Linked DNA regions of Homo sapiens. The protein of the gene in region 2 interacts with the protein of the main gene of each other region in a pairwise test. Each region holds a gene or a part of one and is shown on either strand. Other genes may lie near its edges.

Region 1 (3,741 bases), on a different chromosome or scaffold from region 2:
GCCATTCCCTCTCACAAGGTGCCTACCCATCTCCTGTGCTCCAGGGAAGGCCCAGGAGTCTGCGGATGACTAACCCTTTTTTCTCTTCTCCCAGAAAAGTCTTCCTCAATGTCATCACTCAATATTGCGAAGCACATGCCCCATCGAGCCTACTGGGCAGAGCAGCAGAGCAGGGTTGGAGGGGCTGGGGAGACTGGGCGTTTCGGTGGGGTAGGGGATAGGCAAATTGGGGGTTGATAGGATATGAAAGTTGGGGGTGGTTGGCAGGGTGGAGGGGCAGGCAGGCTGGTTGGGGGTTTGGGGGCCACAGGGAGGAGGTGGGGGCATTTCAGCTGTGGGCAGAGATGAAGTACCTGGACGCCTAAGCCTCTTGCTGCTTCTCCAGCTGCCACTGCCCCTGATGGAACTCATGGAGAATGAAGCTCTGGAAATCCTCACCAAAGCCCTCCGGAGTAAGCTCCCCGCCAACCCCCAAGAACTCCCACGACAGATTCTGGTGGATTTTGCAGGGCTGGGGCCCAGGGGGGTGGGGTTTCAGGGTGCCTTATGTCTTGTCAGATGCCCTTGGCACTCACAAGTATTCCAAGGGCCCCATAAAAGTTAAAAGCTGAGGGACTGGGCACAGGAAGACCCAGTGGGGGACATGTGGTGATGGGCAGAGGCCTGGGCTCCAGGCTGAGTGCAGCCCCTCTCCAGCTGAGGGAGGCTTTTCTGTGGCTGTTTCTCCACCTGCACAGTGGGATGACCGCCTTGGTGTGGCCTCGACTGCCTCTGGTTGGGGAGTTGTGAGGAGCCTTTGGACAGTGGATTATGTGGGTGAACTTTTGCTGCTGTGGTAGGAAAGCCCAGCGGTGATAAAGGGCCAGCTGATGGCTTAGAGTGGGTGGCTGGTCCAGAAGGTGGGCAAACTGCTCGCTACCACCGCCCTAGTTCAGGCCTGCAACCTCTTCCCTAGCCTTGACCTCATCCATCCTCCACCTTAACACTCAGCACCCTTAGAGATGCAAAGTTCCCCAGGCTAACACAGACCTGAGTGCCCTGCGCTACTGCTACCTCGAATCATCTGCGGTTCCTCGAATCACACATGCGGCGCCCCCTGGTGGGGAGACCTTTCGGTTGCTCACTGCCCTGAGCCGAGCTCTGCCCTCCTCCTAGGCTACCAGTTAGGGATCGGCAGGGACCACTTCCTGACTAAGGAGCTGCAGCGATACATCGAAGGGCTCAAGAAGCGCCGGAGCAAGAGGCTGTACGTGAATTAAAAACGCCACCTTGGGCTCGAGCAGCGACCCGAACCAGCCCCGTGCCAGCCCGGTCCCCAGACCCAAGCCTGACCCCATCCGAGTGGAATTTGAGTCCTAAAGAAATAAAAGAGTCGATGCATGGTCCGTGAGTCAGTGCAGGACAGCCCGCGTGAGGCGGACGCACGTGGCCCCGCCCTTCCCCGTGACCTTCATTCGGTCACCGCAGTGACCTTCATTCGGTCACCGCAGTGACCTTGAGCTTTCTCCGTCCGGGCCCTATCGGCCCTACCTTCCGGGACTCGCAATCCAGGACTTATTGCATGTTTTAAGTCGGCTTCACCCACCCCGAGTTCCGCAGCTCTGTGGGGCTACTGGGTCTACGGTTCGAGTGCTCAGTTGGTGTCGCTTTGGGGGAAGGGGGTAGGGGGAACGGGGCAGCACCTCCCTCCTCGCGACGGCGCGCTAGGCTCCGCCCCTCAAGCATAGGTAGCAGGTCCAGCCTCTCCGCTCGTCCCGCCCTTGCGTTTTCATCTGTAAGTGGTCTCTTGGCTCCGCGACTGCAGCCTGCACCGCCTCGCCCACTCCTCTCGCGCGCAGCAAGCCCCGCCTCCTCCGTTACGAAAGAGCGCTTCTGGCCCCACTTGCTCTCGGCTCTATTGTCCCCGCCCTCCGCGTCTCCGGCCCCGCCCCTCCCAGGGGCCGCGTACGCATGTGCGCCGCAGTGGCTCGGCGGGCTGCGGGGCGGGACCTGCACGAAGGCCCGCCCACTGGCGCTGCCGGCTCCGCCCCGACTCGTCCGGGCGCGCAGGCGCCGCCCGCCCCGCTGGTCTGATTAGCATAGGACCCCGGGCCCCGCCCCCTGCTTTGCATGCGCACGGCCGGCCCCACCCCCGCTGTCAGCTGGAGGAAGCGGAGTAGGAAGCGGCCGCGATGTCCTTTTGTGTCCTACAAGCAGCCGGCGGCGCCGCCGAGTGAGGGGACGCGGCGCGGTGGGGCGGCGCGGCCCGAGGAGGCGGCGGAGGAGGGGCCGCCCGCGGCCCCCGGCTCACTCCGGCACTCCGGGCCGCTCGGCCCCCATGCCTGCCCGACCGCGCTGCCGGAGCCCCAGGTCCGGGGGCGGAGGGGAGCGCTGCCGCGGGGGTGGGCGGGCGGGGCGCGGGGGCCATGTGCGAGCGCGGCAGGGAGGCGGGCGGGGCGGGCTGCAGGCGGGGTCCGACTCTGGGGCCAGTCCGGGCCACGGTTGGGACCCAGTCGAGGGTCGGACTGGTCAGGGTTCAGGCGGGATCCGGCGTCCGAGTCCTGGTGGGCCGGCCTGGGGCAGGATCTGGCTCTGGCTGCGGGTCCTGACTCGGGTCAGGGTTGGGCCTCCGATCCAGCCCGCTCCGGGGCAGGGTTCAATCCCGCATTTGCCGAAGTCCCTGGGGCTGGCCGGGGTGGAAGACGGGGAGGGCTCTATGTCTGGGAAGGGGCTCTGAAGACCACGTGGGGGCGCTCGAAGGGGCCTGGGGCCACCCTCCTCTCTGGGTCAAAGGTCATCGCACCGGCAGGGGAGAACTTCCTCCTCCTTGGCTCTCCCCACTTACTTCCTGATAACCTGGTAGAGGTCTCCCGCGGGCGGGGAGGGGGAGGCGTAGCAACTTTAGGCAACTTCCCAAAGGTGTGCGCAGGTTGGGGGCGGGACGCGGCGCCCCGGGAGGTGGCGGCCTCTGCGACAGCGGGAGTATAAGAGTGGACCTGCAGGCTGGTCGCGAGGAGGTGGAGCGGCGCCCGCCGTGTGCCTGGGACCGGCATGCTGGGGCAGGAGGGCAGCCGCGTGTCAGGTGTGAAAAGCTCTGGAGGTGTTTTCATGAGTCCGTGCCTGTGCGTGTGGATGTGGGGAGACCTAGTGAGAGTGTGTGTGATCATGAGCCTTGACTGAGTTCGTGGATGGGGTGTGCGCTCCAGGAGAAGTGTGTGAGCACAAGTGTGAGCAGGAGTGAGCACGGGTTTGGGAAGGCCGGTGCAAGTGTGAAAGCCCTCAGCAGAGAGCGAGCCTGCGTGGGCTTGTGGGGCTCCTGAGCACCCCGGTGAGTGGAGTGTGTGAACTCGGTGTGAGCACGTCCACTGGCCTTGGGTCTGCTCTCCAATGCAGAATACCCAGATGAGGGCAGGGTCTCAGAGGTCCCCCCAACATCTGGAGAAAACTGGGAAGTATCCTGCTCCTGGCTAGGGATTCCAGGTGGGGTTGAAGGTTGCCTGGGGGCTACGGTTACCCTGCTCCCTGGCCTGGGTGGGAGTAGGGGCTTTCTAAGCCTCCCCCAGGTTCCCAAGGGGGAGACCTGCTGTCAGTTACTGGCCCTGAAGACTCTGTTTCCATGGCAACAGCTAGGAGGGGGCAGTGTTCCTGGGCAGTCCTTCCTTGGACTCTGCCCCCCTTCTTCCCCACTTGCTGGGCTTGGAAGCCTGGCCCTAGGCCCGAGGTTGGGCAACCCGTGTGGCAGGGTGTCTCCCATCCCCCATA
Region 2 (3,741 bases):
CTACTAAAAATACAAAAATCAGCTGAGCGTGGTGGTGCCCACCTGTAGTCCCAGCTACTCGGGAGGCTGAGGCAGGAGAATCACTTGAACCCGGGAGGCAGAGGATGCACTGAGCCGAAATTGCGCCACTGCACTCCAGCCTGGCGCCACTGCACTCCAGCCTGGTGACAAAGCAAGACTCCGTCTAAAAAAAAAAAAATTAGCTGGGTATGGTGGTGCATACCTGTAATCCCAGCTACTCGGGAGGCTGAGGCAGGGGAATCGCTTGAACCCAGGAGGCAGAGGTTGCAGTGAGTGGAGATCGCTCCATTGCACTCCAGCCTGGGCAACACAGCAAGGCTCTCAAAAAAAAAAAAAAAAAAGGCTGGGCATGATGGCTCATGCCTGTAATCCTAGTACTTTGGGAGGTTGAAGCGGGCAGATCACTTGAGGTCAGGGGTTGCAGAAAAGCCTGGCCAAAAAAAAAATTAGCTGGGCGTGGTGGCAGTCGCCTGTAATCCCACCTACTTGGGAGGCTGAGGCAGGAGAATCCCTTGAACCCGGGAGATGGAGGTTGCAGTGAGCTGAGATCGCGCCATTGCACTCCAGCCTGGGCAACAAGAGTAAAACTCCGTCTCGAAAATAAATAAATAAATAACAATTTGGTATTTCATCCATCATGGACTCTTTTGCACTGATTTTTTTATGTTTAAAGTGTTGGACTAGCCAGGTGTGGTGACTCGCGCCTGTAATCCCAGCACTGTGGGAGGCCCAGACAGAAGGATCATTTAAGCCCAGACATTCGAGACCACCCTGGATAACATAATGAGATCCTCGTCTCTACAAAAATAAAAATAAAAAATAAATTGCACTAAAATACTTGATTATTGAAGTTTGAAATCCACTTCTACGGGCACGAAGCCACTTAGCTCCAAAGCCAAGGAGCGCTTTGGAGAAGAGGTCCCAACTGGTGCAGATCCAAGGTTTCCCATGGGTGGGGAGGCAGGATGGGGGGGGCGCCTGCAAAGAGGTGAGGGCTGTACGATCTCCAAGGAATTTGGGAGCAGGGGTCCCGCTTTTCTCCGCCGGGCGCCCCCAGCCAGCTGGTTGCCGAGCCCACGCCCCATCTGCACACCAGGACCCGGATGTGCAGCGCGCGGGGTGTCTGGGCCCGTGGAGCCTGCACCGCGCTGCGCTGCAAGGCGCCTCACTGTACGCACTGGCGGCCGTTGCGGCGGAGCAACCATCCCCTGCCCGACGCCGCCGGGAGTCTGGAGACGCACCTGGCGGCCGCCGCGCGCAGGAAGCCACGGCACCTAGCTGCATTGTTGTCGCTGCCACCGCCCCCTCTCGCCTTCCCTCCCTAGAGGAAACCGAGCACCCGTCCCCACCTGCGCAGGGCTAGTACCACTTTAAGGAGTCAGGCGCCGCCGGGGTAGGCGTGGTCGCCGCGAGCGGGGGGGGGGGCGCTGGTGTAGGACGGACCTGATTGGCCGGAGGCCCGGGCGGTGGCCGCGCGCGCCTGCGCAGGAGGCAGCAGCGCGCACCGGCGGCGGGAGGAGCGCGCGCGGGTGCTAATTGGCCCGGGCGGCGGCCCCGCCCGCGAGTGGTGAGCGGTCACGTGACGCGACGGCTGGGGGCTCCCGGCGCGGGGGACGCTGGTGACCAAGATGGCGGCGGAGCTGGTGGAGGCCAAAGTGAGTGAGCGGTGGCGGCGCCGGCCGGGGCAAGTGGGCGAGAGGGCGGGGGCCGGGCCGCAGGTCGAGGTCTGCGCCTTCTGTCCGGGGCCCCACAGCGCGGCCGGCCCGCGGCTCGCCGTCCCGGCCCCCAGACCCCGACCCCCGGTCTCAGGGTGAGGGCGGGGGGCGGGGAGGCCGGGGGCGGGGCCCTCCTGCCTCACCCAGGTCTTCGCGCCGGGGGTCGCTCCCCCGGCTTCAGGCAGGGTCCCCCCACCCAGCCCGAGCCCTTAGGGTCCCGGTCCCTGAGCGCCAGGCCAGGGCCGCGCCTCCCGGTTGAGGCACCGTCCCGCCGGGATGCGGGACGTGTTGAGCTACTCGTTGCCCTCTTGGTTCCGAGCCGGGGTCCTTGCTTTTTGGCTGGTGTGTTGGGGGGAGTGTCTGCGCCTCCCCGCCCACAGGGCTCCCAGGACTGCTATCTGGGTCTCGTCCCCGCCCAACAGGCCAGGCTGGGGTTTGCGAGTCTCCTGCTCGGAAGGGTCCCCCGAGTCCTGGATAGTGTCCTGCCACCGTCCAGGTGGAGGAGTCAGGGCCCTGAGACCACCCCCAAGACACGGCACGTCCTCTTGGGGTCTGGAGTTCAGGCTCGGTCTTGAGCCCCTCTTCAGCTCCTGCATTGGTCCCAGAACCCCGCCCCCTTCCCGACACCGTCTCTCACACGCCGGAGTGGGCGCTTGGGGGAAGGCTGGGCCCTCCCTTTCCCTCCCCATAGGATGGAGTTCGGACCACTCTTCTTGGTCACAGACCTTCTTTATTCTCCTTTTTTTAATCTTAAATCCTGGACTGTGCTTTGGTCCTACCTCGTTCCTCTCGGGACAGAATCTGAGGCTACTGATTCTGCTTCAGGGGGCTCTAAACCTCACCTGTGCAGCATCAGATACTGTCCTCAAACCTTGGCTGCTTCTCCTATTTTCTGCTCTTGAGCGAGTCTACTTCTTAGGTCAGACACCCACCCTCCCCCTACACAGCCCCCAGAACTTTTATGCACCCCAACTTTGGTTTCTAAGGTCCCCTCTCTTTCTGCCTATTCTCTTTTGTTGATCTCTGGAGGGTCCCCACTGGGTCCAAGGCTGGCCTCTTTAGAACAACTGTTGCTGCTGCTCTATTATACTTTGGGTCCTGTCCAGGTCCCATGTCCCATAGATACCATCTCCTAGCTTGGAACCACTTTTAATCATCCTGGGATTGAGCTCAGAGTATCCCCATTCCAGGGGATGTACCTTCTTGTAGGTGCCTACCTAGAGCTGAGGGTCTAAAACCCTTAGAAGTGCCCGCAAGGCCACGGCTTCCGGGGAGGTTAGGGGACCTCTCCCTCCCCCATCCCCTTTCACATCTTCCCTCCCCACGGTCCTGACCTGTACGTATCTTCTTCTCGGTCCTCTCACATTACCCCCTGGGATCTGAAAACACAGCACTCAGGGCTCTGTGATTATAGCATATACCTCTCTTCGCCTCCCAACCCTACACCCCTGCGCACACTTCTGCTCCTCTCTAGAGTTTTGAAAAGTGGAGACTCGCCCTGGAGATGTGGAGGCCTGAACTCTGTAAACCCAAAGTGGCAGGCTCTGGGCTTGAAGTGTCCTGGAGTCCTGAAATGTAACCTCCCGTTTCGGGGCTTGGAGCTGTGACCCTGGACCCCAACCCCCACCCTGGCTGAGGGCAGGGTCTGCACTCTTTTGTACCATCCAGGCCTTGAAATATGATCTGATGAACTTTCCTTAACCCTCTGGTGGCTGGGCCCCCCCCCACCCCAATTAAATCAAGTTGACCCTTCTTTCAGGTTCTCTAAACCGTGAGCCTCCATTCAAGGGGGCCTGGACCCTGGGGAACCTTCTTTCTCCTTGAGTCTGTTGCTACCTCTCCAAGTACCTTAAATGTCATTGAAACATCCCCTTCTTTACAGGGGCCTTCCCCAGCCTGTCATATTCATGGCTGCAGATTCTGTCTTTTGGGGTGCATCACAGACTGCTCGGAGGGGCGAATGTTGGGGGTTTGTTGGTGAACTTTGAAATCTGAGACTCTCAGC

Evidence for each region. The genes of interacting proteins can lie anywhere in the genome.
Region 1: the proteins of PIAS4 (region 2) and ESRRA interact in binary tests that used the Homo sapiens proteins (3 or more experiments, as listed by UniProt).

The regions. Positions count from the first base shown.
Region 1 is NC_000011.10:64,303,388-64,307,128, forward strand, and holds the start of ESRRA (steroid hormone receptor ERR1), read left to right. Parts: upstream 1-2,136; 5' UTR 2,137-2,349; intron 2,350-2,490; exon of another isoform or gene 2,491-3,741. Other genes in the region: CATSPERZ (cation channel sperm-associated auxiliary subunit zeta), read left to right, coding at 95-174, 386-452, 1,156-1,259. UniProt on the Homo sapiens protein: Binds to an ERR-alpha response element (ERRE) containing a single consensus half-site, 5'-TNAAGGTCA-3'. Can bind to the medium-chain acyl coenzyme A dehydrogenase (MCAD) response element NRRE-1 and may act as an important regulator of MCAD promoter.
Region 2 is NC_000019.10:4,006,112-4,009,852, forward strand, and holds the start of PIAS4 (E3 SUMO-protein ligase PIAS4), read left to right. Parts: upstream 1-1,624; 5' UTR 1,625-1,649; coding exon 1,650-1,676; intron 1,677-3,741.